Linked DNA regions of Homo sapiens. The protein of the gene in region 5 purifies or fractionates together with the protein of the main gene of each other region. This does not show direct contact. Each region holds a gene or a part of one and is shown on either strand. Other genes may lie near its edges.

What was found.
Region 1: the proteins of DOK3 (region 5) and AMD1 purify together in Homo sapiens (affinity purification with mass spectrometry; 3 studies listed by BioGRID and IntAct, with this or other methods). This does not show direct contact.
Region 2: the proteins of DOK3 (region 5) and INPP5D purify together in Homo sapiens (co-immunoprecipitation; one study listed by IntAct). This does not show direct contact.
Region 3: the proteins of DOK3 (region 5) and COA7 purify together in Homo sapiens (co-immunoprecipitation; one large-scale study listed by IntAct). This does not show direct contact.
Region 4: the proteins of DOK3 (region 5) and MIOS purify together in Homo sapiens (affinity purification with mass spectrometry; 4 studies listed by BioGRID and IntAct, with this or other methods). This does not show direct contact.
Region 6: the proteins of DOK3 (region 5) and BLTP3B purify together in Homo sapiens (affinity purification with mass spectrometry; 3 studies listed by BioGRID and IntAct, with this or other methods). This does not show direct contact.
Region 7: the proteins of DOK3 (region 5) and QTRT2 purify together in Homo sapiens (co-immunoprecipitation; 2 studies listed by BioGRID and IntAct, with this or other methods). This does not show direct contact.

Annotation. Positions count from the first base shown.
Region 1 is NC_000006.12:110,891,250-110,894,783, forward strand, and holds part of AMD1 (S-adenosylmethionine decarboxylase proenzyme), read left to right. Parts: intron 1-911; coding exon 912-954; intron 955-1,049; coding exon 1,050-1,194; intron 1,195-1,485; coding exon 1,486-1,578; intron 1,579-1,660; coding exon 1,661-1,816; intron 1,817-2,226; coding exon 2,227-2,367; 3' UTR 2,368-3,534.
Region 2 is NC_000002.12:233,171,381-233,176,200, forward strand, and holds part of INPP5D (phosphatidylinositol 3,4,5-trisphosphate 5-phosphatase 1), read left to right. Parts: intron 1-4,820. UniProt on the Homo sapiens protein: Phosphatidylinositol (PtdIns) phosphatase that specifically hydrolyzes the 5-phosphate of phosphatidylinositol-3,4,5-trisphosphate (PtdIns(3,4,5)P3) to produce PtdIns(3,4)P2, thereby negatively regulating the PI3K (phosphoinositide 3-kinase) pathways.
Region 3 is NC_000001.11:52,691,363-52,696,182, reverse strand, and holds part of COA7 (cytochrome c oxidase assembly factor 7), read left to right. Parts: intron 1-3,315; coding exon 3,316-3,456; intron 3,457-4,820. UniProt on the Homo sapiens protein: Required for assembly of mitochondrial respiratory chain complex I and complex IV.
Region 4 is NC_000007.14:7,606,772-7,610,366, forward strand, and holds the end of MIOS (GATOR2 complex protein MIOS), read left to right. Parts: intron 1-224; coding exon 225-321; 3' UTR 322-2,161; downstream 2,162-3,595. UniProt on the Homo sapiens protein: As a component of the GATOR2 complex, functions as an activator of the amino acid-sensing branch of the mTORC1 signaling pathway. The GATOR2 complex indirectly activates mTORC1 through the inhibition of the GATOR1 subcomplex.
Region 5 is NC_000005.10:177,503,561-177,507,591, reverse strand, and holds part of DOK3 (docking protein 3), read left to right. Parts: intron 1-2,481; coding exon 2,482-2,581; intron 2,582-2,676; coding exon 2,677-2,849; intron 2,850-2,931; coding exon 2,932-3,609; 3' UTR 3,610-4,031. UniProt on the Homo sapiens protein: DOK proteins are enzymatically inert adaptor or scaffolding proteins. They provide a docking platform for the assembly of multimolecular signaling complexes. DOK3 is a negative regulator of JNK signaling in B-cells through interaction with INPP5D/SHIP1.
Region 6 is NC_000012.12:100,083,431-100,088,250, forward strand, and holds part of BLTP3B (bridge-like lipid transfer protein family member 3B), read right to left. Parts: intron 2,929-4,820; coding exon 2,845-2,928; intron 1,229-2,844; coding exon 1,046-1,228; intron 1-1,045. UniProt on the Homo sapiens protein: Tube-forming lipid transport protein which mediates the transfer of lipids between membranes at organelle contact sites. Required for retrograde traffic of vesicle clusters in the early endocytic pathway to the Golgi complex.
Region 7 is NC_000003.12:114,069,311-114,074,130, forward strand, and holds part of QTRT2 (queuine tRNA-ribosyltransferase accessory subunit 2), read left to right. Parts: intron 1-1,315; coding exon 1,316-1,528; intron 1,529-4,820. UniProt on the Homo sapiens protein: Non-catalytic subunit of the queuine tRNA-ribosyltransferase (TGT) that catalyzes the base-exchange of a guanine (G) residue with queuine (Q) at position 34 (anticodon wobble position) in tRNAs with GU(N) anticodons (tRNA-Asp, -Asn, -His and -Tyr), resulting in the hypermodified nucleoside queuosine (7-(((4,5-cis-dihydroxy-2-cyclopenten-1-yl)amino)methyl)-7-deazaguanosine).

The DNA.
Region 1 (3,534 bases), on a different chromosome or scaffold from region 5:
TGCCCAGGCTGGTCTTGAACTCCTGCCCTCTAGCAGTCCTCCAGCCTCAGTGGTTCTTAACATACAGATCATAATGTCCTTTGACAATATGAAGAAGGATATGATTCCCTTCAGAAAAATGCCTAGTGCTCTGCTCCAGCATTTTATATAATAATTGACCTGGCTTTTTAAAATTGCACAGTGTAAATTAGTGTTTCTTGAATGAAATTCGTAAGGGTTTCTTTCATCCATTTACTAAGCTTTTATTTATAGAGGTCAGGGAACAAAGGTTATCTGATAACATCCTTACTTCCTAGATAAGGCTGAAAACCTAAGATAATTTAGTAACTTTGCACAAAGTCGCTCATAAGCATGAAAATTGAACTTAGCACATCTACTAATATGAAACCAAACCAGGCTAATCAGAGTGTTGGGTATTTACTGCAAATACCCGCCAAGTCAGTCGATCCTGCTTATCTGGGAATTTACCTACTGTTTCCATTCCTTTCACTGATGACATTTCTTTTTTCTTGAGATGGCGTCTCGCTTTGTCACCCAGGCTGGAGTGGAGTGGCGTGATCTTGGCTCACTGCAACCTCCGCCTCCCGGGTTCAAGCAGTTCTCCTGCCTCAGCCTCCCAAGTAGCTGGGATTATAGGCATGTGCCAACACGCCCAGCTACTTTTTGTATTTTTAGTAGCGATGGGGTTTCATCATGTTGGCCAGGCTCGAACTCTTGACCTCAAGCCCACCTCTGCCTCCCTGCCAAAAGGGGTGGGATTATAGACATGAGCTACTATGCCCAGTCCACTGATGGATGACATTTCTAATAAGTGGCAAATAGTATCATTCTGCTTATTGTGGAAGGGTAGTAACAAACCATCCTATTAAATGGATGTGTTATATTTATTTTGCGTTCTCTTCCCTCAACAGATGGAGCAGCATATTGTATGGGACGTATGAATTCTGACTGTTGGTATGTTTAATGCAATTTTGTGGATTTTTGTTGTCCTATGTAAGATTTAAACTGCCAATTGTCATTTTTAGGAACTATTTTTAATTTTTATTTAGGTACTTATATACTCTGGATTTCCCAGAGAGTCGGGTAATCAGTCAGCCAGATCAAACCTTGGAAATTCTGATGAGTGAGCTTGACCCAGCAGTTATGGACCAGTTCTACATGAAAGATGGTGTTACTGCAAAGGATGTCACTCGTGTAAGCATTTTTAGTAATAATTGTTGCTGGACTCTTCTGCGTGGGGACTAAATTTTATTTTTCATTCTGTAACTTTTAAGTTCAGGGTAACAAGTGCTAGTTTGTTACATAGGTAAACTTGTGTCATGGGGGTTTGTCGTACACAGTATTTCGTCACCCAGGTGTTAAGCCTAGTACCCATTAGTTATTTTTCCTGGTCCTCTCCCTTCTCCCACCCTGGGACTAAATTTTGGACTCAATTGAAGTTTATTTGTCAAACCCTTGTTAAACTCGGTCTTTTTCCCCCCCCAGGAGAGTGGAATTCGTGACCTGATACCAGGTTCTGTCATTGATGCCACAATGTTCAATCCTTGTGGGTATTCGATGAATGGAATGAAATCGGATGTGAGTAGTTATATATTGCTTCAATAATTATTTAAATGTGAATAGTCTTTCCATTCTTAACACTGTGAACTTTTTCTCTCAGGGAACTTATTGGACTATTCACATCACTCCAGAACCAGAATTTTCTTATGTTAGCTTTGAAACAAACTTAAGTCAGACCTCCTATGATGACCTGATCAGGAAAGTTGTAGAAGTCTTCAAGCCAGGAAAATTTGTGACCACCTTGTTTGTTAATCAGGTAATTTTATATTTTATTATTAATCAGGTTATTTGATTTTTAAAATCTTAAAGGAAATGAGACAGTGAGGCCTAAGATGTATTCTGAGATAGCACATATACCAGCCACTCAGATATCCAGAAGTAATATTGTTTGAGGTTACTGGTAGCTGAGAAGCTTTGTTTCATTAGACCTGTGTCAGTCCTTGTTTTCTGTCTAGCCAAACTGATGGGTTCCTCCTGTCTTGCTATTGACAGGCCTCTGGTGGGAGGAACCATAAGATGCCCTGGCCCCTCCAGCACATAAGAAGGCAGCTAAAATAACTCAGATGTCTTAGTTTCATTAAGATAAAAGTCTGTCACTTAACTGTTTTGGTTGAAAATACTTCTCTGGATTGCAAACACTAACGGTTATTTAATTTTTTCCCCCAGAGTTCTAAATGTCGCACAGTGCTTGCTTCGCCCCAGAAGATTGAAGGTTTTAAGCGTCTTGATTGCCAGAGTGCTATGTTCAATGATTACAATTTTGTTTTTACCAGTTTTGCTAAGAAGCAGCAACAACAGCAGAGTTGATTAAGAAAAATGAAGAAAAAACGCAAAAAGAGAACACATGTAGAAGGTGGTGGATGCTTTCTAGATGTCGATGCTGGGGGCAGTGCTTTCCATAACCACCACTGTGTAGTTGCAGAAAGCCCTAGATGTAATGATAGTGTAATCATTTTGAATTGTATGCATTATTATATCAAGGAGTTAGATATCTTGCATGAATGCTCTCTTCTGTGTTTAGGTATTCTCTGCCACTCTTGCTGTGAAATTGAAGTGCATGTAGAAAAAACCTTTTACTATATGAAACTTTACAACACTTGTGAAAGCAACTCAATTTGGTTTATGCACAGTGTAATATTTCTCCAAGTATCATCCAAAATTCCCCACAGACAAGGCTTTCGTCCTCATTAGGTGTTGGCCTCAGCCTAACCCTCTAGGACTGTTCTATTAAATTGCTGCCAGAATTTTACATCCAGTTACCTCCACTTTCTAGAACATATTCTTTACTAATGTTATTGAAACCAATTTCTACTTCATACTGATGTTTTTGGAAACAGCAATTAAAGTTTTTCTTCCATGAGTTGAGTCCTTAAGAAAATGATTCCAGTTACTCATTTTGCATATTTGCTATTTTAACATTATTGGACCCTGCATTTATAGTCCTTTGATTTCTTCCCTCTCCCTGGTGTCTCCCCCAAGACCCCAAATAAAGCAATACACTGTTAACACTGTGGGTTTATATACTAATTCTATACCCCAGATGGGGAATGGGGGAGATGGTCCCTGGGCTTAATATTCTTTAAAGGGCATGGGAATTTAGCCTCTCTTTTATTGTAATGTGCTCTTTTGGAAAATAGTTGGTTAGCAGGGAAGACCCAGAGTTGTAGATTGAGATTAGGGTGTACTGGCTGAACTGTGGAAAACATACAATTCTGTGTTCCTCAGTAAATGAGATTAGCGTCTAATGAGTAGCACCCCTTTACTAACTTAGTAGTAGTATAAAATCATTTTTATTTAGTTAATTACCAGAGAGATTTAGCATAATTTTGTTCTGGATTCAGTAAATCAAGTCAGCTTGGATCATTCACCTTAACTTTTCCTTTAGCAGCCATTTCCACTAGTTTCCATTAAGTAGTGTTCTATAAACTTTGATCCAAAGCAGAATCAATGTCTTTTCCATCTCGTGACTTAAAG
Region 2 (4,820 bases), on a different chromosome or scaffold from region 5:
CTAAGATGCTGAGAGGACTTTAAAGTATTATTTCCTTAACTGGGTTCTGAAGATCATTTTTTTAAAGTCCCGTGATCAAATATATTTACTAAACTGCTGAGTGAATTAACATTAAGCAGGTTTCTTCGCTGCAGGACTTATCAGAGCTTTTATGGGCCCAAGAGCACTGTGGTTCTCCATGAGGAAATCTGTATGCCAAACTCAGTTATTCATGGAACACCAATTAATGTCTTATGAGGCCACTTGTTTTCCAAGGAACAGTGTTTTGGGGAAAGATGCAATAAAATATGTATTCATTTGTTCAAAGATATTTCCTGATGGCCTATTATGGGTTAGGCACTCTCCTAGGTGATGGGAGAGCAAAGATGTCTTTTCCAGGGACTTCACAGTAGGAAAAACAGATATGCAACTAGCTGTAGCCAGAGCCAGAATGTGACAATGCCAGGGCAGGGAAGGATCAGGGAAGCCAGCCCCTGGCAGGATTCAAGGGTCAAATGGCTGGGACGGTGAGGTACCCAGGCCCACTAGAAGCCTAGGGCAATGGAGCGCAAGTTCAAAGTGTCATCTGAAAGAGTTCTGGGCCCCATCTGGGCTCAGGAGAAAGTGAAGAACTGGACGTGGGAGAGGAAGGCCAAGCGCTGGGTGGATTTTAGAACAGAGCAGGAGAGGAAGAGAATACAACTGAGAGGACAGGAGGAGATCCCGGACTGCTGTCACCCACGAGGCTGGGACCCCCAGGATGGGACACCCCATTCCGCAGGGTCCACTGCCTGCTGTGTGGATAAGGTCACCTGGCCCAAAGGCACTGTCAGAGCAGGTCCTTGGGGATCCCTGTGCAGGCTGGTGAAGGATGGTTTGCTTTGATGTGAGTTTAAGTTGAGGCAGAGGAGGGCCTGAGATGGGAGAGTGGCCGGTCCTAGATGCCAGGATGACAGGCCACAGGGGGCCACTGCAAGCTCTGCCGGGCACTGGTGCATCAGAGTGGCATGTGCAGAATTGTGGTGGGCATTGTGGTAAAGGATGAGGACGCGGCAGGGGCATCGGTGAGGAGGCCGTTGTGCACATTCAGCTGAGCAACAGCTAGGGCCGAATCAGGGAAAAAACAGTGAAAATGAAAGAAAGGGGGAAATCAGGATATATTGCGAGACCTGATTGCCATTGATAAAAACTGGAAAATCACAAGGCGGAGCTGGCTTGAAGGGGAAAAAAATAGAACTTGTTTTCAGACTTACTGATTGTGTGACATCAGTGGAAGAACCCAGAGAAAATACCCAGAAGGCAGCTGAAAATAGCGATGCGTCGCTTAACAACGGGGATATGTTCCGAGAAGCGTGTCATTAGGTGACTTCGTCATTGTGGGAACCTCATGAAGTGTGTATACACAAAGCCCACTTCAGTTAGATGGTGTGGCCTATTGATCCTAGGCTACAAACCCGTATAGCATGTTACTTTACTGAATACTGTGGGCAACTGTAACACAATAAGTTTTTGTGTATCTAAACATTAAAAAGGTACAGTAAAAATATGGTATAAAAAGAAAAAAATGGGCTGGGGGCAGCGGCTCATGCCTATAATCCCAGCACTTTGGGAGGCCGAGGTGGGTGGATCACTTGAGGTTAGGAGTTCAAGGCCAGCCTGGCCAACACGGTGAAACCTTGTCTCTACTAAAAATACAAAAATTAGCCATGCATGGCGGTACACGCCTGTAACCCCAGCTACTCGGGAGGCTGAGGCAAGAGAATCGCTTGAACCCGGGAGATGGAAGTTGCAGTGAGCCGAGATCGCGCCATTGCATGCCAGCCTGGGTGACAGAGCAAGACTGTGTCTCAAAAAAAAAAAAAAAAAAAGAAGGTGGTACACCTGTATAGGGCACTTACCATGAATGAAGCTTGCAGGCTTGGAAGTTGCTCTGGGTGAGTCAGTGAGTGAGTGGTGAATGAGTGCGAAGGCCTAGGACATTACTATGCACTGCTGTAGACCTTACAAACACTGTACACTTAGGCTACCCTACATTTATTTTTTAAATTTTCTTTTTCCAATAATAAACTAACCTTAGCTTACTGTAATTTTTTATTTATAAGCTTTTTATTTATAAACAATTTAATTTTTGACGCTTTTGTAATAAAATGTAGCTTAAAATACAAACACATTGTACAGCTGTACAGAAATATTTTATTTCTTTATATTCTTAATCTATAAGCTTTTTTTCAAGTTTTAAAATTTCAAAACTCTCATTTACATTGACTTTTTTGTTGAAAATTAAGACGTAGGCTGGGCACCGTGGCTTATGCCTGTAATCCCAGCATTTTGGGAGACCGAGGTGGGTGAGTCACCTGAGGTCAAGAGGTCGAGACCAGCCTGGCCAACATGGCAAAACTCTTGTCTCTACTAAAAATACAAAAATTAGCTAGGCGTAGTGGTGTGCACCTGTAATCCCAGCTACTTGGGAGACTGAGACAGGAGAATCGCTTGAAACCTGGAAGCAGAGGTTGCAGCGAACCGAGATGGCGCCACTGCACTCCTGCCTGGAGCAAGGCTCCGTCTCAAAAAAAAAAACAAAAACAAAAACCATAAATGCACACATTAGCCTAGGCTGAAACAGGCTCAGGATGGTCAATGACATTATCACCCACCTCCACATCTCATCCCATGGAAGGTCCTCGGGGCAATAACATGGAGCTGTCGTCTCCTATGATGACAATGTCTTCTTCTGGTTACCTCCTGAAGGACCTGCCTGAGGCTATTTTATAGTTAACATTTTCTTATAAGTAGGAATACACTCTAATGATAAATAATATCGTAAACACGGAAATGAGTGACAGTTGTTTATCATTATCAAATATTATGTACTGAACAGAATTGTACTGTTATGCTTTTACACAGCTGGCAGTGCAGTGGGCTGGTTTGCACCAGCATCCCCAGAAGCATGTGAGTAATGTGTTGCGCTGTGACGTGATGACAGCTACAGCAGCACTACGTGATGGGGATTTTCCAGCTCCATTATAATTTTGTAGGACCTCTGTCCTATATGCAGTCCATTACTGTGGTACATGACTATTTGTGGAGCCCCACGGGTAATTCTCAGAGGCAGCTGATGCCGAGAACTGCAATGTTAAGAAGTAACTGTTTAGGCTGGGCACAGTGGCTCATGCCTGTATTCCCAACACTTTGGGAGCTGAGGCAGGTAAATCATTTGAGGCCAGGAGTTTGAGACCAGCCTGGCCAACATGGCGAAACCCCATCTCTACTGAAAATACAAAAATTAGCCAGGTGTGGTGGCGCACTCCTGTGATCCCAGCTACTCAGAAGGCTGAGTCAGGAGAATTGTTTGAATCCGGCAGACAGAGGTTGCAGTGAGCTGAGATTGCCCCACTGCACTCCAGCCTGGGCAACAGAGTGAGACCCTGTCTCAAAAAAAAAAAAAAAAAAAGGACTTAACTAACTGTTAGGCAGAATCAATGAAAACTAAAAATGCACCTATTCTATGATTCAGTAATTCCGCTTTGGTGTGTGTTCAAGAGAAATTTGTATATTTGTTCACCAAAAATAGGTATAAGAATGTTTAGCCGGGCATGGTGGCTCACGCCTATAATCCCAGAGCTTTGGGAGGCCAAAGCAGGTGAATCACCTGAAGTCAGGAGTTCCAGACCAGTCTGGCCAACACCGCGAAACCCGTCTCTATACAAAATTAGCCGGGCATGCTGATGGGCGCCTGTAATCCCAGCTACTCGGGAGGCTGAGGCAGGAGAATCACTGGAACCTGGGAGGTGGAGATGGTGGTGAGCCGAGACCATGCCACTGCACTCCAACCTCAGCAACAGGGCGAGACTCCATCTCAAAAAAAAAAAAAAAAAAAAAAATGAATGTTTATGGCAGCCTTGTTTGTAATCTTCAAAACTGAAAACAACCCTATGTCCATTAACAGTAGAGTAGATAAATGTGATACTTATAAACAATGGAACTTTTATAAGCAACGAAGTGGCTGAAGGAGTCCAACATAAAAGAGTATCTACTGAGTGAGTCCATTTATATACGTTCATATAAATTAATCAATGGAGATGTTAGTCACACTAATGCTCACCTTTAGGAGGCTCTGGTATTGACAAGGAAGGCTTATGAGGGAAGCTTTAGGATGATGGCGGTTTTCTGTATCTTGCTCTGGGTAGTGGGTAAGTGGGTTTATACAAACCTAAAAATGCATGGGACTGTACACTTATGGTTAGTACACTTTATGTAAGTTGTACCTAAAGTTTTTTTTAAAAAGTGAATGGTTCAGAAGTAGAGAGAATGAAAATAAAAACTTTTGTTTTTTTTTTTTTGAGATGGAGTTTTGCTCTTATTGCCCAGGCTGGAGTGCAGTGGCGCAATCTCAGCACACCACAACCTCCACCTTCTGGGTTCAAGCGATTCTCCTGCCTCAGCCTCCTGAGTAGCTGGGATTACAGGCATGCGCCACCATGCCCGGGTAATTTTGTATTTTTAGCAGAGATGGGGTTTCGCCATGTTGGTCAGGGTGGTCTCGAACTCCCGACCTCAGGTGATCCACCCGCCTTGGCCTCCCAAAGTGCTGGGATTACAGGCATGAGCCACCATGCCCAGCCTGAAAATAGAACATTCTTGAAAGAAAATTGGTAAAAGGAAGAAAAGAGAAAAGTAATTGAAGGAGATGACAGAGATAAGCTCTTTCAGGATGAGTTCCTTTATGTTTGTAGACAGAGAAGAAAGAGCTAGAACATGAGGGGATAAGGATATTGATAAAAGAGGGTTGTTATTGCCAGTTTACCTTGTCTATCCCACCTAATGGACATCTTGCTCATCAT
Region 3 (4,820 bases), on a different chromosome or scaffold from region 5:
GAACCTGGGGTTGTTCTTTGAGAGCTGGTCCATGTCCTAAGTATAGAAAGAACTTAGAGGAATTGGGGTCACTAAGGAACAGGGTGGTTAGGGAAGACTTTGAGGGGAGGTCTGGAGGGCTGGGCAAGTGTTGATTAAATGGAGGAGAGGGTGGGAGAAGAAAGTGCTATCTTTTGGAAGGTTGAAGTCAGGATTTAGTACGTTTGAAGCGGGAGTCTGGCCCACAGTATGTCAGGGCTTGAATGCCAGGGTAAGGAATATAGACTTTGCTCTGTAGGCAATGGAGAGCAAAACATGTCTGAGAAGCAAGTTCTTGGAATTGGGAAGGGTGGATATATCAAAAGGACTGGCTGCAGCACTTTACGAGACCTGAGAAGAGGCTATAGTTACCGTAGCGACTGGTGTAGTAGTTCCTTGCATGTCCCACTTTCTTACCTGGATAACTGAAGTCGCCTTCTAACCTGTCCCTCTCTTTGCACTTTACTCCCTTAAAATCCATTTCTACTCGCAGATAAACTGATATTTTAATTTCAATTTTGTTATGTTAAATATTAGATTTTAAAATAACCTATTTGTTATCAATGCCCAATTATATACCCTCACATAATTAAATTCCTCCATACTCAGGCATATATGAACATATATACCAGAGTAACGTTTTTGTTGGGGGGTGGGGTTGTTTGTTTGGTTTTGGTGGCTTTTTGGTTGTTTGTTTTCTGAGACAGGGTATTACTCTGTCGCCCAGGCTGGAGTGCAGTGGTGCAATCTCAGCTCACTGCAACCTCTGCCTCCCAGGTTCAAGTACTTCTCCTGCCCCAGCCTCCCAGGTAGCTGGGATTACAGGCGTGTTCCACCACGCCTGGCTTTTTTTTTTTTTTTTTTTTTCCCTGAGGCTGAGTCTTGCTCTGTTGCCCAGGCTTGAGTACAGTGGCACGATATCAGCTCACTGCAACCTCTGCCTCCCGGGTTCAAGTGATTCTCCTGCCTCAGCCTCCCAAGTAGCTGGAATTACAAGCGTGCGCCACCAAGCCTGGCTAATTTTTGTATTTTTAGTAGAGACGGGATTTCACCATGTTAGCCAGGCTGGTCTAGAACTCCTGACCTCGAGTGATCTACCCGCCTTGGCCTCCCAAAGTGCTGGGATTACAGGCATGAGCCACCACACCTGGCCTGAATCATATTACTTATTTTCTTGAAACCCTCCAGTGGTTTACTGTTTCAGTTGGAAAAAATCATAACTCCATCCTATGTTTCACGAGGCCTATGGTCTGGTCCCTACCTTCCTTCTTCATTTCCTGACCCTCCTCCTTGGTTCAGCCATGTTGTACCTTATTCGTGCCAAACTTATTCTTTCAGGTCTTTGTATTTACTGTTCCTTGTGCCAGGACTTTGTGCCCCTGCCCATTTTATTGTCTTTTAATTTCATTTTTTATTTTTTATTTTTAAATTTTTTCCAAATCCCTGCCCCACTCCCATTTCATTGTCTTTAAATAGCTAGTGCTTTCTTGTTATTGAGGTCACAGTCCTTGGTGAGCCCCTCCCCAGTGGCTCAGTCTTTGTTAGCCATTCACCCAAAGTTGACAGCAAACAGTTATCCTGTTTTACTTCAGTCATAGCATTTATGTATTTATTTGTATAAATTTAAGGGGTACAAGTGCAGTTTTGTTACATGGATATATTGCCTGGTTGTGAAGTCTGGGCTTTTTTTTTTTTTTTTTTTTCGAGATGGAGTTTTGCTCTTGTTGCCCAGGCTGGAGCGCAATGGCGCTATCTCGGCTCACCGCAGTCTCCGCCTCCCGAGTTGAAGTGATTCTCTGCCTCAGCCTCCCGAGTAGCTGGGATTATAGGCATGCGCCACCATGCCCGGCTAATATTTTCGTATTTTTAGTAGAGACGAGGTTTCTCAATGTTGGTCAGGCTGGTCTAGAACTCCCGACCTCAGGTGATCTGCCTGCCTCGGCCTCCCAAATTGCTGGGGAAGTCTGGGCTTTTAATGTAACCAACCATCACCCAAATAATGCACTTGTACCTGTTAGGTAATTTTTTATTCCTCACCATCCTCCCACCCTTCCCAATCTCCAGTGTCTATTATTCCACACTCCCTGTGTCCATGTGTACACAGTATTTAGCTCCCACTTATAAGTGAGGACATGCAGTATTTCACTTCCTGTTTCTGAGTTGTTATAACATTTATTACTGTTTGAATAAATTTTGTTCATTTATTTATTTATTGTATTTCCTCCCCTAGAATGTAAATTTTAGGAGGGCAAATGAGTATATTCTCAGCATCTAGAACCATGTCTGGTACATAGATGCATAGAGATGCTCAAATATTTGTTGAACGAAAATGAATGAGAGATATATGTTGTCACTGGGGGTAAAGAAGAGGGGAGAGAGATTAAGGAAAGAGGTTTACTGGGACTGGGAGACTGCCAAGGAAGTAGAGCCTATTTTCATTAGAAGCTGCCGCCTCTACTCTTTCTCTTTGGCTTTCATGTTCCTACCCTGGCTGAGGAGTAAGCTATAGTCATTACAGCACCCTTTTCTTTTTCTTTCTTTCTTTTTTTTTTTTTTTTTAAGACAGAGTCTCGTTCTGTCACCCAGGCTGGAGTGCAGTGGCGTGATCTCGGCCCGCCGCAACCTCCGCCCCCTGGGTTCAAGCGATTCTCCTGCCTTAGCCTCCCAGGTAGCTGGGATTACAGGTGTGCGCCACCACACCTGGCTAATTTTTTTATATTTTTCCACTCCTGGCTAATTTTTTTGCATTTTTAGTAGAGACAGGGTTTTACCCTGTCCAGGCTGGTCTCGAACTCCAGACCTCAAGTGATCCTCCTGCCTCAGCCTCCCCAAGTGCTGGGATTACAGGCATGAGCTACCGAGCCTGGCCCAGCACCCTTTTCTTGCTGCTACAAAGACTAGCCTATGAGCCTTTTAGGTTTTCACTGTTTTTACCATTTAACTTCATGAGAGATTCCAAAACTAGCAAAGTTTCAATCATGGAAGTCAGTGGATACTTGGGCGTGGCTGACAGGGAGCAGAAGGGCTGGTGAGTGGTAGAGCCAATGCAGGGGCTGAGGTCTCCCCAAGCCATGCATTGCTCAGTCCATGGCTGTGGGGAGACAATGCCATTTGTAGGAATGGCTAAACACCACCTACATTCTTTGTGGTAAGGCCAACTTGCCACACATCAGGAGGACAGGGGCTGTCTTAAAAGACATCACCTGGCCTGCCACACCTGGGCACCCCCTACCCCCAAGTCCCCACTGCGAGCAGCAGCCCCAGACATGAAGAACAACCCTTGCCCTCTTCTCGCAGGTTGCTATCGGCTGGTGGACTATTTGGAAGGGATCCGGAAGAATTTTGATGAGGCTGCCAAGGTGTTGAAGTTTAACTGTGAAGAGAACCAGCACAGTGATAGCTGCTACAAACTGGGGGCCTACTATGTGACTGGAAAAGGTAAGGAGGGCCTGCCTTTTGGGTCCTTGTCATTGATAGCAGTGCTGGCCTCACACCTGAGCCCCATGATAAGCTCTTGCAGAAGGGTCTCGCAGGCATTGGGAAAGTGCATTGTAGGAAGATGGAGAGGTAGGAGTTCAGCAGAGTGATGGGGGGAAGAACACAGCCTTTCAAGTTAGGTAAACCTTAGGGAATGCTATTGGCAAGTAGTGGGACCTTGAGCCAATCACTTCGACTCTGTGCCTCAGTTACATCACCTGTAAATTGGAGGGAAATAGTACTTGCTTTGTAGGGTGGTGAGGATTAAGTAGGACAGCATAGGAAAAGGCATCAGCATGTGCTTGGCACAGAGTAAGGGGTCAGTAATTATTGTCTTCCTTCTGTCTTTTCTCCTTGTACTCTAATTGTAGTTATCACTGGCATAGTGTTTACATTATCTATGGCTAAATAACAAAATAGTTATTTTTGTTCACCTCAATAGTTTCTGTGGGTCAAGAATTTGGGAGTGGTTTAGTGGGGGTACCTCAGGGTATCTCATGAGGTTATAGTCAAGACATTGGCCAGGGAGCCAGGGCTGGAGACATTGGAAGGCTTGACTGAAGTTGGAGTTTCCAATTCTAAGATGACTCACTCTGATGGCTGGTAGCAGAGGCCTCTAGTTCCTTACCAGCTGTTATTGGGAGAGCTCAGATCGTCATGACATGGTTCGCTCCATGGGCTGCTTGAGTGTCCTCATGACATGGCGTCTGGGTTCCCCCAGAGTGAGTAATTTAAAGGAGACAACAAGATAGAATCCACAGTGTCTTCTATGACCTATCTTTGGAAGTCACACACTTTTCATTTCTATCACATATTTATTAGATGTAGCCTACACTAAGGGGAAGGACTTAAATTCCACTTCTTGAAGAGGAAGGAATATTAAAGAACTTATGGACATATTTAAAACCACCACAGGCCAGGCACGGTGGCTCATGCCTGTAATCCCAGCACTTTGGGAGGCCAAGGCGGGTGGATCATGAGGTCAGGAGTTCAAGACCAGCCTGACCAACATGGTGAAACCCCATCTCTACTAAAAATACAAAAAAAAATTAGCTGGGCGTGGTGGCGCGCACCTGTAATCCCAGCTACTCAGGAGGCTGAGGCAGGAGAATCACTTGAACCCTGGAGGCAGAGGTTGCAGTGAGCTGAGATCGCGCCACTGCACTCCAGCCTGGGCAACAGAGCAAGACTCTGTCTCACAAAAAAAAAAAAAAAAACACACACACACATAAATAAGTAATAGGACCTTTGACAGGCAGCTTTTTTTTTTTTTTGTGACAGGATCTTGTTCTGTTTCTCAGACTGGAGTGCAGTGATAAAATCAT
Region 4 (3,595 bases), on a different chromosome or scaffold from region 5:
AAAAGTTGCATTATAGATAGATATAAGTAAACAGGTGGGCACAGTGGTGCACACCTGTAGTCCCAGCTACTCAGGAGGCTGAGGCAGGAGGATCACTTGAGCCCAAAAGTGTGCGTACAGCCTGGGAAATATAGGGAGACCCTGTCTCTTAAAAAATAAATAAATAAATAAATGTATGTCTGTCTAATTTGGATTTTTAACTGTTATTTGACCTATTTTTTTAGGGACCATGCAGAGTGCCCTGTGTCGGCATGCACGTGTAAATGTATGCAGTTGGATACAACAGGGAATCTGGTACCTGCAGAGACTGTCCAGCCATAAAATGTTACCACCTTAAGAGAACCCTTCAAGTGTGGAGCTTTCTAGTAGGTGTCCTTCATAGCTCAGAAACATACCTCAGAACAAGCCATTCATGACTTACCTGTAATGGGAAAATAAATCATTCTATCAGATCAGCAGTTTTGATGTTTGAGTGATTTTGATATGCTTCACAGAGACAAATGCTGCCAAAATAAACATCGAAGTATAGACATGAGTTCTGTTCAGCAGGTTGAAAAGTCTGATTTAGAAAAACTTTCTAAGTTTTGGTTGAAATTATGAACACTCTAGAAGCAGAATTTCTGGAAGAGCCAAGAACAGACTTTGAGCCTATATCTTCAAAGCTGAAACTGGATATCTTTCAATAAAATATGTGCACTTTTAAAATAAAATGACTAATTCTGTGATTCAGACAATAGTTTTAAGTTCAGCTGTGCTTAGATTTCTTTCAGATTAATTTAAAATTACAGATTTTTACTTTTAGAATTGCAGAGCCCCTATCCCACACTGGAGAATATTTTTTATTACTGTCTGTTATATATGTGTCTATGTGTGTGTGTATATTTATGTGTGTATGTATAAATATGTATTTTTTAAAGGAGCCTTTTCCCTCCTTTGATTTTAAGATAAGCAATCTTTTGGCATAACATTATCGTCTTCCTAGAAAAGCCAAGATGAAGAATCTATCTTACAACTTTTTCTCTTCAGTAGAGAAAAACATGTACCATTTCAGGTGAACATACAAAATTTTCACTTTCTACCTTTTGCCTTCCAATGTCCTGATTTGTCTTCAAAGGTTTTTCTCCATATTAATTTGTCATCTTATCCTCATCACCTGAGAACATTTTACTGCATACAAAGTCTATGCAAGATTATATGTAACTAGCCATTTAGTATAATCTATGTCAGTGTTTCTGTGCTGTCAAATTCCGTCCTGATTTGGAATACCATACCTTGTTCTTTCCAAGGTAGACTAGGAAGTGTTGGGGAAATGGGGTCACTTCAGAGACCATTTTAGATGTAAGTTTTTAAATGTAAGTGTTACTGGGGCTAAGTCAGGTACTTTATTTAAAACATTTTTTTTTCTCATTTCATAGCTAGATAGTTGTAAGAGAAATACAAAGAATTTACAAGATGCTTCTCTGTCATCTGCCATATGCAGAGGGACTGAACTAGGAATTTTGTAGTTGAAGCTGTGTTCATAAAGAGTAAATCTTATTTTATAGATTTTGGAGAAATAAAACAAGAATTTTAAGAGCTTTCGTATTAGCAGTTTTGCCTTATAAAAACTAAGATTTGTCAGATTAGTTTGAGGTGTAACCTAAATATTAAAAGTAGATTAAATTTATTTTTTACCTTGAGTGTCTGATACATAAAACCCTTTTCTAGGAAAACATTGGAAGTAGTACATATTTACTCTAAATGTCTCACCTGCATGACAGTCTTTTCAAATGAAAGACATGGTAATTGCAATTTTTTTTTAAAGATTGCTATTAAGGGTACTTTTTCCAGCCTTCATTTGAGTAAATCTTAATTGATTTCATTTTATTAACATATACCCTTTACCTTTAATATTTCATTTGAAGTGTTCCTTTCAAACTTACTGTCTTAAATATGAAAGTCAGCTTTAAGTAATGTCAGACTCATATGCATTTTCATTCTCATTAGCTAAAGTAAAATGTAAAATTATCTCAAATAGTTACAAGTTTTGGAAATACAGTATAAAACATGAATGTAAAGTCTATTATGTAATATGCTTATTTGTAATCCTAATATATGAGGGTGACATTTTTAAGATTGTATGTATGTGTCAACCTCTTAAATGTTTTCTGTGAAGCCCAAACATGCAGTTTATGTCTCTGGTGTCTGTTTTGCATTTCAGTGTGCATGGACAATCAAATTATTTTCTCATTTTTATCACTAAGTCACTGGTATTTGGGTTTATAAACTCAACAAGATACTTTACCTAAACATGATCAATAGATGTGTTTATTAAAAGTGTTTTTATTATTTTTAAAAGATTGAATAAATCTGGGTTGAAGTCATTGTATCTAATCAAGAAATTATGATTCCTTTACAAATAATCCACGTGAAGTAATATTGGTGCTTTTTTTGATGACAGACTTCATACTTAATATTAGAAGTAACATTCCTTTTAGGCTCTGTTTTTCAATTCAACCCACTTTCCAGAATAGTTATTATCCTTTAAAATGGTATATTTTAAAAGTAGCTTCCCATTGTCAATGCTTCACATAGTAAGTATTTAAAAGAATGTAGTTCTTCATTTAATTAGATGACTCAATTTCAGTCATTCATTTGACTGCAAGTAGTTAAAGCATGGTCTTTGAAACATAAATTATAATCCTAGCCTCGGGATCTTCGGTAAGTGACTTGACCTTTTTGAGCTTCAGTTTCTTCATATGTTAAAAGAAAGATACAGAAATACCTACCTCAGAGTGTGGGAGTATTAGGTGATGCAATAAACATGAAGTGCCATATCCCTGTCACATGGTGCTCTATAAATGGTAGTGATTAGCAGTCATTGTTACCTTCATTTTCATAGATTGCTCATGTATCAGTACTTTTTCAATGAATACTTATAGTATAATTTTAATTATAGTTAAAATTATAAGTATAATGAATACTTATAATTTTAACGAATCTACATTTGTCTCAAGAATGAAAATTTCCTTGGTGTGAGTTAGCTGAAATAGATTTTCTTAAAAAGAGTGAAAATTCCCAATAATAGTTATACTCCAAATATAGGGTAAACAAAAGTAGCTAAGTCCTGTCTCAAAAGAAAAATGCCATAATTTGGATAAATTTATAGTATTACTGTTTTTGCTGCATGCAAAAATCCTCCAAATGACCTCCTAAGAGTTAAATGTGATATAAAAATGAACCCAGAGGAAAAAATTATGGCAAATTTAACAACTGACTATTGAAAACTTTAAGTTTTATGTCTAAACTCTTAATTTAACTACGTTTAAATTGAACTCCCTAATCTGGATACTTGGAGAAAGTATCCAGGATTATTCTGTGTACTTTTTCTTTTTCTGCCATTCTATTACACTTGATGTTCATTTAAATTATAATGTTGGGGTGGTAGTGATAATTTCAAAAGTATACTGTGAGACTTGCTGTCCCGGAATAGCCGTAATTAAAGCTAGTGGGCACAATTTCTGACATCTGCTCAGACAGGCATCAGAGAGGTAGGAGGCACATATTTGGGTCAATATCTTGTATCAAGTCTAGTGACCCACATCACAATGACAGA
Region 5 (4,031 bases):
CAAACAAAACATGTACATGTGAGGCAGGAGGATCGCATGAGCCCCAGAGGTCGAGGCTGCAGTGAGCTGTAATCGTGCCACTTCACTCCAGCCCGGGAGACAGAGCAAGACCCTATCTTAAAAAAAAACCCACATGGACATGAACGTCCATAGCAGCACTACTCACAGCCACCAGAAGGTGGAAACAGCCTACATGGCCATCAGCTGACAAATGGATAAGCAAAACGTGGTCCGTCCGCAAGATGGAATACTACTCAGCCATAAAAACAAACAAACGCCTGGCACAGTAGCTCTTGCCTGTAATCTTAGCACTTTGGGAGGCTGAGGTAGGAGGATTGCTTGAGCCTAGGAATTCAAGATCAGCCTGGGCAACATAGTGAGACCCTGTCTCAAAAAAAAAAAAGAAAAGAAGAAAGAAAGAAATGTACAGACAAGGTAACTCCATTGGGATAGAAATCAGATGAGTGTTGGCAGGAGCTGGAGGAAGGGAGAAGTGGGGAGTGGCTGCTCATGGGTACAGGGCTTCCATGTGGGATGATGGAAAAGTTCTGGAACTAGACAGTGGCAACAGTGCACAGCCTTGTGAGTATACTAAAAAGCACTGGTGGCCGGGTGCGGTGGCTCAGGCCTATAATCCCAGCACTTTGGGAGGCCGAGGCGGGCGGATCACCTGAGGTCAGAAGTTCGAGACCAGCCTCAACATGGAGAAACCCCGTCTCTACTAAAAATACAGAAGTAGCTGGGCATGGTGGTGCATGCCTGTAATGCCAGCTACTCGGGAGGCTGAGGCAGGCAGAATTGCTTGAACCTGGGAGGCAGAGGTTGCGGTGAGCCGAGATCATGCCATTGCACTCCAGCCTGGGCAACGAGAGCAAAACTCCGTCTCAAAAAAAAAAAAAAAAAAAAGAAAAGAAAAAAAAGAGCACTGATGATACACTTTAAGATGTAAAATGGGCCGGGCGTAGTGGTTCACACCTGTAATCCCAGCACTTTGGGAGGCCGAGGCAGGCGGATTACCTGAGGTCAGGAGTTCGAGACCAGCCTGGCCAACATGGTGAAACCCTATCTCTACTAAAAAAAAATTACAAAAATTAGCTGGGTGTGGTGGCACACGCCTGTAATCCCAGCTACTACTTGAGAGGCTGAGGCAGCAGAATTGCTTGAGTCTGGGAGGCAGAGGTTGCAGTGAGCTTAGATCGCACCACTGCATTCCAGCCTGGCCGACAGAGCAAGACTTTGTCTCAAAAAAAAAAAAAAAAGTAAGATGGTTAAAACAGTAAATTTTATGTTCTCTGTATTTTATCATATTTTAAAAATCAAAAAACAAAAGGCAGTTGAGGTTAGGCATGGAGGTTCGTGCCTGTAATCCCAGCACTTTGGGAAGCCGAAGCACGTGGATCACCTGAGGTCAGGAGTTCGAGACCAGCCTGCCCAATATGGTAAAACCCTGTCTCTACTAAAAATACAAAAAATTAGCCAGGCATGGTGGTGGGCACCTGTAATCCCAGCTACTTGGGAGACTGAGGCAGGAGAATCACTTAAACCCGGGAGGCGGGCTGGGCGCGGTGGCTCATGCCTGTAATCCCAGCACTTTGGGAGGCCGAGACAGGCGGATCATGAGGTCAGGAGATCGAGATCATCCTGGCTAACATGGTGAAACCCCATCTCTACTAAAAATACAAAAAAAATTAGCCAGGCCTGGTGGCGGGCACCTGTAGTCCCAGCTACTTGGGAGGCTGAGGCAGGAGAATGGCGTGAACCTGGGAGGCGGAGCTTGCAGTGAGCCAAGATCGCGCCACTGCACTCCAGCCTGGGCGACAAGAGTGAGACTCCATCTTAAAGAAAAAAAACAAACCCGGGAGGCGGAAATTGCAGTCAGCCGAGATCTCGCCATTGCACTCAAGTATGGGTGACAGAGCAAGACTCCATGTCAAAAAAAAAGGCAGTTGACAGGAGCAAGGAGCCTGGTGAGGAAGCTGTGGCATTTGACCCGGCTGTGTTGCTATGGGCCAGGGTGGTGCTAGTAGAGGAGCTGAGTGGGAAAGAGCACAGGGGACATGCTGAAGGCCTGGGTGTGGGGATGAGGCAGAGATTGGGGGCACCTTGCAGGGTCATAGCAGGTGGCTGTGGTGAGATGGAGGAAGACACCTGGGGTACTGCTCTAGGCTGTCAGACATACAGAAGCTGGCCCAGCCAAGCCCAGGGGCTGCAAGGGACATCCTTTTGTGTCCCCAGTGATCTGCAGCTCTCAGACACCCTCAAGCACAGTGCCTCTTGCCCAGCCCAGCACTCTCAGTGGGGAGCCAGGTGGGAGAACAGGCTCGGAAGGGGACCTAGGCTTATGCAGCGAGCCGGGCAAAGCTGGAACTGGAGCCCAGGCCCCTGGATGCCCCCTGGCTTGTGGAGTTCTGGGATACTGAGGGGAGGGGACAGGGCATGGGAGTGCGGTGCTCTCACCTTTGACTTGAACTCATTCCCCAGGGGACAGGGGAGGCCTCCTCAGGATCCACAGATGCCCAGTCTCCCAAGAGGGGCCTGGTCCCCATGGAGGAAAACTCCATCTACTCCTCCTGGCAGGAAGGTAAGTTGGAGGACGTGCAAGGGCAGCCTCAGCCCCCCACACCCAGGGCTGGGTCTTTTTGGGACTGACGGAGCTGTCCTGGCCACCTGCCACAGTGGGCGAGTTTCCCGTGGTGGTGCAGAGGACTGAGGCCGCCACCCGCTGCCAGCTGAAGGGGCCGGCCCTGCTGGTGCTGGGCCCAGACGCCATCCAGCTGAGGGAGGCCAAGGGCACCCAGGCCCTCTACAGCTGGCCCTACCACTTCCTGCGCAAGTTCGGCTCCGACAAGGTGAGGTGCAGGGGTGGGAAAGGGTGAGGGGCTGACACCCTGGACCCTCCTGCTAATCCCCACCCGTGTGCCCTGTGCCCAGGGCGTGTTCTCCTTTGAGGCCGGCCGTCGCTGCCACTCGGGTGAGGGCCTCTTTGCCTTCAGCACCCCCTGTGCCCCTGACCTGTGCAGGGCTGTGGCCGGGGCCATCGCCCGCCAGCGGGAGCGGCTGCCAGAGCTGACCAGGCCCCAGCCCTGCCCCCTGCCACGGGCCACCTCTCTGCCCTCCCTGGACACCCCCGGAGAGCTTCGGGAGATGCCACCAGGACCTGAGCCACCCACGTCCAGGAAAATGCACCTGGCCGAGCCCGGACCCCAGAGCCTGCCGCTACTGCTAGGCCCGGAGCCCAACGATCTGGCGTCCGGGCTCTACGCTTCAGTGTGCAAGCGTGCCAGTGGGCCCCCAGGCAATGAGCACCTCTATGAGAACCTGTGTGTGCTGGAGGCCAGCCCCACGCTGCACGGTGGGGAACCTGAGCCGCACGAGGGCCCCGGCAGCCGCAGCCCCACAACCAGTCCCATCTACCACAACGGCCAGGACTTGAGCTGGCCCGGCCCGGCCAACGACAGTACCCTGGAGGCCCAGTACCGGCGGCTGCTGGAGCTGGATCAGGTGGAGGGCACAGGCCGCCCTGACCCTCAGGCAGGTTTCAAGGCCAAGCTGGTGACCCTGCTGAGTCGTGAGCGGAGGAAGGGCCCAGCCCCTTGTGACCGGCCCTGAACGCCCAGCAGAGTGGTGGCCAGAGGGGAGAGGTGCTCCCCCTGGGACAGGAGGGTGGGCTGGTGGGCAAACATTGGGCCCATGCAGACACACGCCTGTGTCCACCCTGGCCTGCAGGAACAAGGCAGGCCGCCTGTGGAGGACCTCAGCCCTGCCCTGCCCTCCTCATGAATAGTGTGCAGACTCACAGATAATAAAGCTCAGAGCAGCTCCCGGCAGGGGCACTCACGGCACACGCCCCTGCCCACGTTCATTGCGGCCAACACAAGCACCCTGTGCCGGTTCCAGGGGCACAGGTGACCTGGGCCTTACCTGCCACCCGTGGGCTCAAACCCACTGCAGCAGACAGACGGGATGGAAATCATTAGGACTCCATGTTGCTCTGCACGGCCGAGTGACACGAAGAGGCAGGCGGAGGGAGC
Region 6 (4,820 bases), on a different chromosome or scaffold from region 5:
GGAGGGAAGGGGAGGGGCAGACAATGGGTGATTAGTGAATACAAAGGTATAGCTAGATAGGAGAAGTAAATTCTAGCATTTATAGGGTGACTATAATTAATAATTTATTTTTTCAAATAGCTAGTAAGAGCAGATTTTGAATGCTCCCAACTTAACTAATAAATGTCTGAGGTGACGAATATGCTAATTACTCTGCTTTTAGTGTTATACGTTTGTATACATGTATCAAAATATCACATTTCAATGCTTACTGGGCCAGCAAAAAAAAAAAAAGTAGTAGTATCACACTGTACCTCATAAATACGTACAATTATTATGTGTTGACTTAAAAAAAAAAGAAACCTTCTAGAAAAATTCTTCCTGGGTGTGACTATTATTGGTTGTATTAATTTTAAAAGTGCTTTGGTCCACAAGCCTATGTTGGTCTGAGCAAAGGATACAGGGGTTTTAGACATTAATTAAAAATACTTGGCTTAGGCCGGGCGTGGTGGCTCACGCCTGTAATCCCAGCACTTTGGGAGGCTGAGGTGGGCAGATCACTTGAGGTCCAGAGTTTGAGACCACCCTGGCCAACACAGTGAAACCCTGGTTCTACTAAAACTCCAAAAATTAGCTGGGTATGGTGGCATGTGCCTGTAATCCCAGATACTCAGGAGGCTGAGGCAGGAGAATCGCTTGAACCCGGGAAGCAGAGGTTGCAGTGAGCCGAGATCACACCACTGCACTTCAGCCTGGGAGACAGAGTGAGACCCTGTCTCAAAGAAAAAAAAAAAATACTTGGCTGGGCATGGTAGCTGACACTTGTAATCCCAGCACTTTGCGGAGGGCCAAGGTGGGAGGACCGCTTGAGGCCAGGAGTTTGAGACTACCCTAGGCAACATAGCAAGACCCCCATCTCTACATTAAAAAGAAGAAAAAAAAATACTCATTTACAGGAAATACTATGATCACACACACACACACACACACACACACACACACACACACACACACACAGAGTGCAAACACTCTTAATATTAGGGGAATGCTATTATAGGTAAAATACCTGTTTGTGTGTGCTGGGGAGAGGCATGTGTTGGGGATTTAGGAGGTGAACCTACATTATGATCCTTCACAGCCTGTTTAAGCATTTCAACGTTGCACTCAAATTCATGCAATAACTCATTGGCCCATCCATTTTTTGTTTTGGTTGCATCACTAAAATACATCCAATGATTACAACTATCTCCTGTAAAATGAACAACAGGTATTTCATTGAAAAATGTACAACTTTCATTTATTATATTATAGTAATGCTTCCAATGAGATTTAGTCGTTTATTCAAGAAAGACTTTGATATCTGAAAAATTTACAGGCTTCACCTACATGTAATTTCGAAATATGAGTAAAACATTTGAAACAGAGGGAAAGAATGTCAAAAGCAAATCATCTGGAGGAGTTTCTATCTAGTACCCATTCTTAGTAGAAAATCACTAAGATTCAATTTAAAGCCATATGACTCGTCACCCTTCACTGGATGCTCAATTACCTGGTAAACCTGCATTAAACTGAATCCCAGAAAATATTATCAAATAAATAGAATCCTTTCTTCAAAGATGTGTTATCAAGTTAACTAACAAAAACCTAAACCACAAAAATGATAAGATGATGATGATTAAAACATTTAAGAAACCAATAAAACTTCTCAAGATGTACTCAGCCATAGTTAGTTTTTGGAAGAAAAATATATAATCAGAATCATTAGGCTTCTCTGTAGCAACTAAGAAAAATGCACATAAAAGGGTTAAGACAATAAAATCAGGCCAGGCGCAGTGGCTCACATCTGTAATCAATCCCAGCACTTTGGGAGGCTGAGGCAGAAGGTCGAGGCTGTAGTGAGCAGTGATCACACCACTGCACTCGTGAGGCCTTGGATCAAAAAAAAAAAAGAAAATTTACTCTATGAATGTTTCACACCTCTTCAAAAATAAATATCTAGTTAAAAATTTTATGCATTTGTAAGTTAATTTATGAGTCAGGACGATAGTATATAAGACAAAATCCTTCAAAAGAGAATTATTATATTGAATGTTGGCAATGAAAATTTAAAATGAAAAAAAAATCATACAACTTTTAAATTTAATCAGGTACCAACATAGAAATGACAAACATTGGTTAAAAAACGTGTAAACAAAAATGTGTGAACAGAAAAACTTTACCATTTTTTAAATGTCCTGGAAAACTCTATGATCTCTAGTTTGGTTTTTCTCACTTGTGTGAATGCTAAATACTAACAGAAGGCAAAAACGGTATAAAGTCAAATTAATTTGGTCACAATAATCATACTTTTTTTTTCTTTTCATTATTTGGGAGAAAGAATCTACCAATACCAGATTGTTAAGAGCCTATGAAATCTGGAATCCTATAATTTAGCTAAACATACTCTTATTCTTAGCTTCATACTCTTTTCATTCCTAGCTTCATACTCTTTTCTAATTTTTAAATATATAAATCATTTAAAAATTTAAAACATTAATAACTTGTTTTGGTCACAACTAACAAAACAGCACAAACACATGTCCTCTGTACCCTGATTTTTTTTTAAGTTTTAAATTGGTTATTTGGAAAACTGTCAATTTCTAAAAATTATGATTTCTAAAAATCTATATAAATGTCAATATACACTGTATGACTATATTCCATGGCAATTCTACTTTCTTAATGAAATACTGCCAGGAGAAAAATACCAATCTCTTCATCTCATTTCTTGTTAACAAATAAAAGCAAGATAAAACTAAACTAAATAAATTAGCTATATAATTTGAAAACAACATTTATATCTTTTAAAGATGCTGTTATACACACCTGCTTTATGATAAGGATAATAATCTATAGTTAGCTGTGTAAAAGAGAGTTGCATTGCCCCTCCAGTAATACGTCTGTTTGACTCTGGGAAAAAAAAAGGGGGGGGGGGAAATATTAAGTCAATTATCAGAAAGATTTAATTTACCACAGAAAAATTTTAGCATACTTGGAGTCCAAATAGTAATAACTGTCTCTCTTTTATGACGGCACATTAAGGATTTTAGGAAATATAATTCAATCCAATGAGTATTTACTGAGCCCCCCTCATTTGTAAGGCACCAGGATAAAAGGTAAGAATATAAGAATAGCAGAATCCCTGCCCTGGTAGAGTTCACAGATGATACTAGCACAACTTTTATATTGACAAGGCCTCCCCATATGTCAGGCATTATTTTAAATACTTTAGGTAAACTTACTCATTTGGTTTTCATAACAACCGCATTTGATAGGTACAATCATTATTATCCCCATCTTCAAGATAAGGAAACTGAGGCACAAAGAGGCCAAGGACATACAGCTAGTTAAGTGCAAAGCTTGGATTTGAACCCAGGAAATCTTGAACACTACACCATATCATCCTACCTCTTACTGAAAAGGAAATTAAGGCTGGGCGCGGTGGCTCACGCCTGTCATCCCAGCACTTTGGGAGGCCGAGGCGGGTGGATCACGAGGTCAGGAGTTCGAGACCAGCCTGGCCAACATAGTGAAACTCCGTCTCTACTAAAAATACAAAGATTAGCTGGGCATGGTGGCACGCCCCTGTAGTCCCAGCTACTTGGGAGGCTGAGGCAGGAGAATCGCTTGAACCTGGGAGGCAGAGGCTGCAGTGAGCCGAGTTTGAGCCACTGCACTCCAGCCTGGGCAACAGAGTGAGACTCCATCTCAAAAAAAAAAAAAAAAAAAAAAGGGAAATTATTAAAAGTCTGTTAGGTTAGGTAAGTTGTCCAAAGTCACACAGCTATAGTAAAATCAAAAGTAGATTACAAATTGGTATAACGTGAACATAAAAATCAAATTTTAAAACAAAATGGGCAAATCAATCAGAAGAAAGAAAAATACTAACTGAGACATAGCTATGTATACACTCCCTATATTAATTTGTAAAATCCAATTTATCTCAACTAGTAGAATTTTCAGCACAGGTCTACAATCCCTTACGTAAAACCTTTGGAAAGCCAAATGTTTCAGAATTCAGAAATGTTTAGATTTCACGACAGTAATATGATACGGTATATACAGGATATACCATGCAACACTCTCAGCAGGTTCTGAGGCAGCACTAATAAAAATAGCAATTCTGCAGCAAAACATAAATATTTATAGGAAGCAGGCAAAGAATAAAAAAAAGTATTGGCATAAGTCAGGTTTTGCCACCAAATGAGTTTTTCACAAACTTATAATATTTCAGAGCCTTTTGGATTTCACAATAGTGATTACAGACCTGTACTATTAAGGAGATATTTTGGTGAAAAGGTTTTCTTCCTAAATAAAATCATTCAATTTATTCTATCAGGGAATAGTGAGGAATGTAAGGCCTTAGAAAACACTTTCTCCATTCTCATTCTTACTACTTAATCTTGACCACCTCATTTTCTTAGTTTGGTTTGTTCTAACTTTTTTGGATTTTCCTTTCAAATCTCTAAAGTAAAAGATGCCAACTATAAGTCAAATGACACAATGGTAGTCAGAACAAAAGATAACAAATCCCTCCACAAACCCCGAATCTTCCTCACCTTTGCCCCTCCAACCTTTTAGGCTGGAATCTTTTAGGCTGCCTTGTCTAATGAAGGCAGGGTAACTTCTACTGCTAAGTATCCAGGGTCTCAATATTCACTTTCTCAGCTTAAAAACACATGGCAAAAATTTTTGTAGATATAGATCCTGATTCAGATCTGAGGCACAGAGATCAGATAACTCTATTGTTTAAAGGTCTTCAGCCTGATTCTAATGCTCACCAAAGTTTGAGAATTATAGTC
Region 7 (4,820 bases), on a different chromosome or scaffold from region 5:
GGGGTTTGTTGTACAGATTATTTCATCACTGAGGTATTAAGCCTAGTACCCAATAGTTACCTTTTATCCTTCTCTCCCTCCTTTCACCCTTCACTCACAAGTAGACCCCAGTGTCTGTTGTTCCCTTCTTTGTGTCCATGTGTTCTCATCATTTAGCCCCCACTTATAAGTGAGAACATGTGGTATTTGATTTTCTGTTCCTGCATTTGTTTGCTAGGGACAATGGCCTCCAGTTCCATCTATGTTCCTGCAAAAGACGTGACCTCATTCTTTTTTATGGCTGTATAATATCCCATGGTATATATGTACCACATTTTCTTTATCCAATCTATCATTGATGGACATTTAGGTTGATTGCATGTCTTTGCTATTGTGAATAGTGCTGCAATGTACATTTGCATGCATGTGTCCTTATGGCGGAATGATTTATATTGCTCTGGGTATATGCCCAGTAACGGGATTGCTGGGTTGAATGGTAGTTTTGCTTTTAGCTCAAAGATAGAATATTACTAATATATACTCTCTTGAACTAGGAGATTTAAGTCTTTAATTCTATATCTAACTCAGTCTAGTAAACACTAGATATTAAAAATGTATAGGGCCCTAGACTGTGCTTTTGGGATACATACATGAATTGGGATACTCTAGTCAGACAAATAAAGAATGGTGTAATAAGTGCTATCATTTCTATAAAGAAATAAATACAAATTGATGTAAGAGCATAGAGGAGTGAGTGATCGATTATGTCCAGGAGGTTTGGAGATCAGATTAATATGTGAACTCAGTGTCTCAATGGACACGTAGTATTTTGCCAGGCAAAGAAGTAGAAGTTCCAGCACCTAGAAATAATAAATACTTGAGGTGATGGATACTTAAATACTCTGACATGATTATTACACTTGCCCTATATGTAAGATGTCTCACATGTACCCCATAACATTATACAAATATGTATCAATAAAAAAAAGAAAAAGAAATACGGAACTGTCAGTCAAAAGGAACAGTGTGATCAAAGTCTGTGGTATATTCAGGAACAGCAAGGGTTAGGTAGGGGTGGGGCAGGTGGGATAGGGGAGAGCAGAAGATGTTAGAAAAGTATAACAAAGAATTCTTGGTGGGTAGCTCAAAAGTTGTCTTATATGACCACTGAAGGATTATCTGTAAGCTATAAGATCCTATTACCCACCATGTCTGGATATTGAATTGTCACCATCTCTGCAGTTGTAAAGAAGAATTATTGCTTTATCATTTTAATTATTTTATTTTTATTTGCATTTTACTCTTGCTAATTCCTCATCATTTTGCTCCATGGCAGTCTGTGTCTGTGTGGAGTGTTGCAGGACGAGTGGAAATGACTGTTTCCAAGTTCATGGCAATTCAGAAGGCCCTTCAGCCAGACTGGTTCCAGTGCCTCTCCGATGGAGAAGTATCTTGTAAGGAAGCAACTTCCATAAAAAGGGTCAGAAAGTCTGTTGACCGATCACTTCTTTTCTTGGATAACTGTCTGCGGCTGCAGGAAGAGTCAGAGGTAAGGCTGTGCCACTAACCACTCCTTTCTCTTGACACTCTTGCCTCCCTTACATTCTGTGATACCACCTTTTCTGTTCTTCCTCCTACTGCTGTGCTCCTCACTTCTTTGTCTATTTTACTCTCTATTTTTATTTTCTTTTTGAACCTTAAGTATTATTGTTCTCTAGGTTTCTATCTTAGGTTTCTCTTTTCATCCCTTTCTATATGTTGTCCCTGGGCAGCCTTCCCTTAGTTTTAATTGCTGAATAATTCTTAAATTGTATATACTATCAAGATTATTCTACTTAGCTTCAGAATTATGTAATTACTGGGCTATAGGTAGGTTATGTCACTAGAATATCCCTCAAACTCAGAAGTGACCGGATTCATCATTTTATCTCCACAAACCTGTTCTTGCTTTTGCTCTTCCTCAATACTTTATCTCCATTTATGGCATCCACCAAGCTCCTCAGCCCAGAAATTTGAGCTTTTCTTTTTCTTTTTTGAGTCTCACTCTTGCCCAGGCTGGAGTGCAGTGGTGCTATCTCAGCTCGCTGTAACCTCTGCCTCCCAGGTTCAAGGGATTCTGCAGCCTCAGCCTCCCGTATAGCTGATATTACAGGCATGCACCATCACACCCGGCTAATTTTTGTATTTTTAGTAGAGACCGGGTTTCACCATGTTAGCCAGGCTGGTCTTGAACTTTTGACCTTAGATGATCTGCCCGCCTCTGCCTCCCAAAGTGCTGGGATTACAGGCTTGAGCCACTGTGCCTGGCTAAGAAATTTGAGCTTTTCAAGACTCCTTTTTTTCATTCACATTTAATATCCCACTGTTCACTCTTCCTTGATTCCATTTGCCTAAATATGTCTAGAATCTTCCCCTCCTTATTGCCACCTTAAGCCGTAACTGCATCATCTCTTACGTATGTAATTACCTTTGAATTCTTCTCTCTGCCTCCATTCTCATTTTTATCCAATCCATCTTTCAGCCCTGTTATCCAAAAGATCTTTGTAAAGCACAAACAAGAGCTCCTTGCCCACTTCCCTAAAAGAATTTAATGACTCTCCACTTCAACTCTTACATGGCATGGACAGCCTGCTGTGATGTGGCCTCTACCTACTCCTCCAGCTCACTGTGGGCTACTTTTTCCTGTGACTTGCACTCTGACCTTTCTGAGTTGCTTGGAATTCCTTGAGGCATTAGCTTGTTTCATTCTGTACACGGATTTCCTTCTGGACTGTTTCTTGTTTCTGCTTTTCTTATCTCTAGCTATATTCCCTCTTTTGTTTCCACATGAGGCTCATTTCATTCCATGTATCATTCATTTTTTTTTTCTTTTCTTTTGAGACAGTCTCACTCTATTGCTCAGCCTATCAGGCTAGAGTGCAGTGGGGCAGTCTTGGCTCACTGCAACCTCCAACTCCAGGTTCAAGCAATTCTCCTGCCTCAGCCTCCAAGTAGCTGGGATTACAGGCATGCGCCACCGTGCCTGGCTAATTTTTGTATTTTTAGCTGAGACGAGGTTTCACGATGTTGGTCAGACTGGTCTTGAACTCCTGATCTCAGGTGATCCACCCACCTTGGCCTCCCGAAGTGCCATGTGTCATTCTGTAGAACTGGTTCCTGATAGTTCCAGGGAATTCAATTCATTCTTTGCTACCCCTTTAATTAGTATGTAGCTATATTTTAGCCCCAATCATATTGTATTTCAATGATTTCTTTATGCATTTGTCTTCATTAAACTGTGGCCTCTTTAAGCTCAATTTCTGTGTATAAGTTGGGTATCTTCATCATGCAGCAGAATGCCTTCCCTGTCTTATTCACTGGTTCCTCTTATTCTGAATGCCCTTCAATATTGAAGCTCTCCAAGATTCGGTTGTTGGCTTTCTTTTCTTCTCCATATATTACCTGGGTTAGGGATGGCGAATGGGTTTCATCTGACATATTGTAAGCCCTCAGTAAATGTTTGCTGATGGTGAATGGTTATGATGGGGTGAAGATGAAGCTGTAGTGGTAAATCAGGGATACTGATAGCAGAGTTAATTAAGTGGGAAAAGGATTCAGAGAACAGTAGAGATGAGGGAACAGAAGATAGTGATCAGAGGAGAGAATTTTAATATTTGAGATCATGTATGTGGAGTAATCCTGAGCGATGATCACATCCCACTATGGCAAGCGCATTGAGTTTGAGGAACATCATTATATTGAATTTAGCAATAAAAATATAATTTGGCTAATAAAGTTAATATAAATGAAATAATTAGAGGAAACATAGTTATTCTGAATAGAATTCACAGTATATGTAACAAGAGTTTGGTGTGGGGACATTGCTGTGTGTCTGGGCAGTTAGTGTTGGTGGCTTGCTAGTAATTGTTTTGAGCCAGTCATTATCCTTGTAGGACTAGTAATGTTTGGGTAAGTAGAAAGCAGGACAGCGAGTGTGACAAAGATGATTATTAGAAAGGTCAGATGAGCCTCAAGTCCCTCATCTGTGTTGTTGCAGTCAGCCTCATCATTTCATATTACTTCTGCATATTTGTGGGGGTTTTTTTGTTTTGTTTTGTTTGTTTTTTTGAGATGGAGTTTTGTTCTTGTCGCCCAGGCTGGAGTGCAGCGGTGCGATCTCAGCTCACTGCAACCTCTGCCTCCCAGGTTCAAGCGATTCTCCTGTGTCAGCTTCCTCAGTAGCTAAGACTACAGGCACACGCCACCACACCCGGCTAATTTCTGTATTTTTTGGTAGAGATGGGGTTTCACTGTGTTGGCCAGGCTGGTCTTGAACCCCTGACCTTTTCATTCGCCTGCCTCAGCCTCCCCGAATGCTGGGATTATAGATGTGAGTCACCGCGCCCGGCCTTACTTATGCATATTTATTGGTCAAACGTGTAGTCCCTCTCCATACCCTTTATTATTGTCTTGACATGATTATTAATAGTGCCCCCCCATTCTTCCATTTTAGATAATAAATTATATGATCGTGCTTCTTACACCCAGGAAAGGGAGTTTCCCGAATAGTCATGCTAGTCGTATAAGCAGGCAGGCCTATGTAACTCTCTGCTTTGTGTTTCTGCATACATCTTTTCCCATGATTCCCTCCCTGTCTTATTGACTGGCTCCTCTTATTCTGAATGCCCTTCAATATTGAAGCTCTCCAAGATTCGGTTTTTGGCTTTCTTTTCTTCTCCATATATTACCTGGGTTAGGGATGGCGAATGGTTTCAACCGAGGTGGTCGGGTGCAGCAAGAAGAGAGTCATCTGTTAGTCACATCTGCTGTGGAATCAGGAGTAGAGAGTGGTAGCATCATGC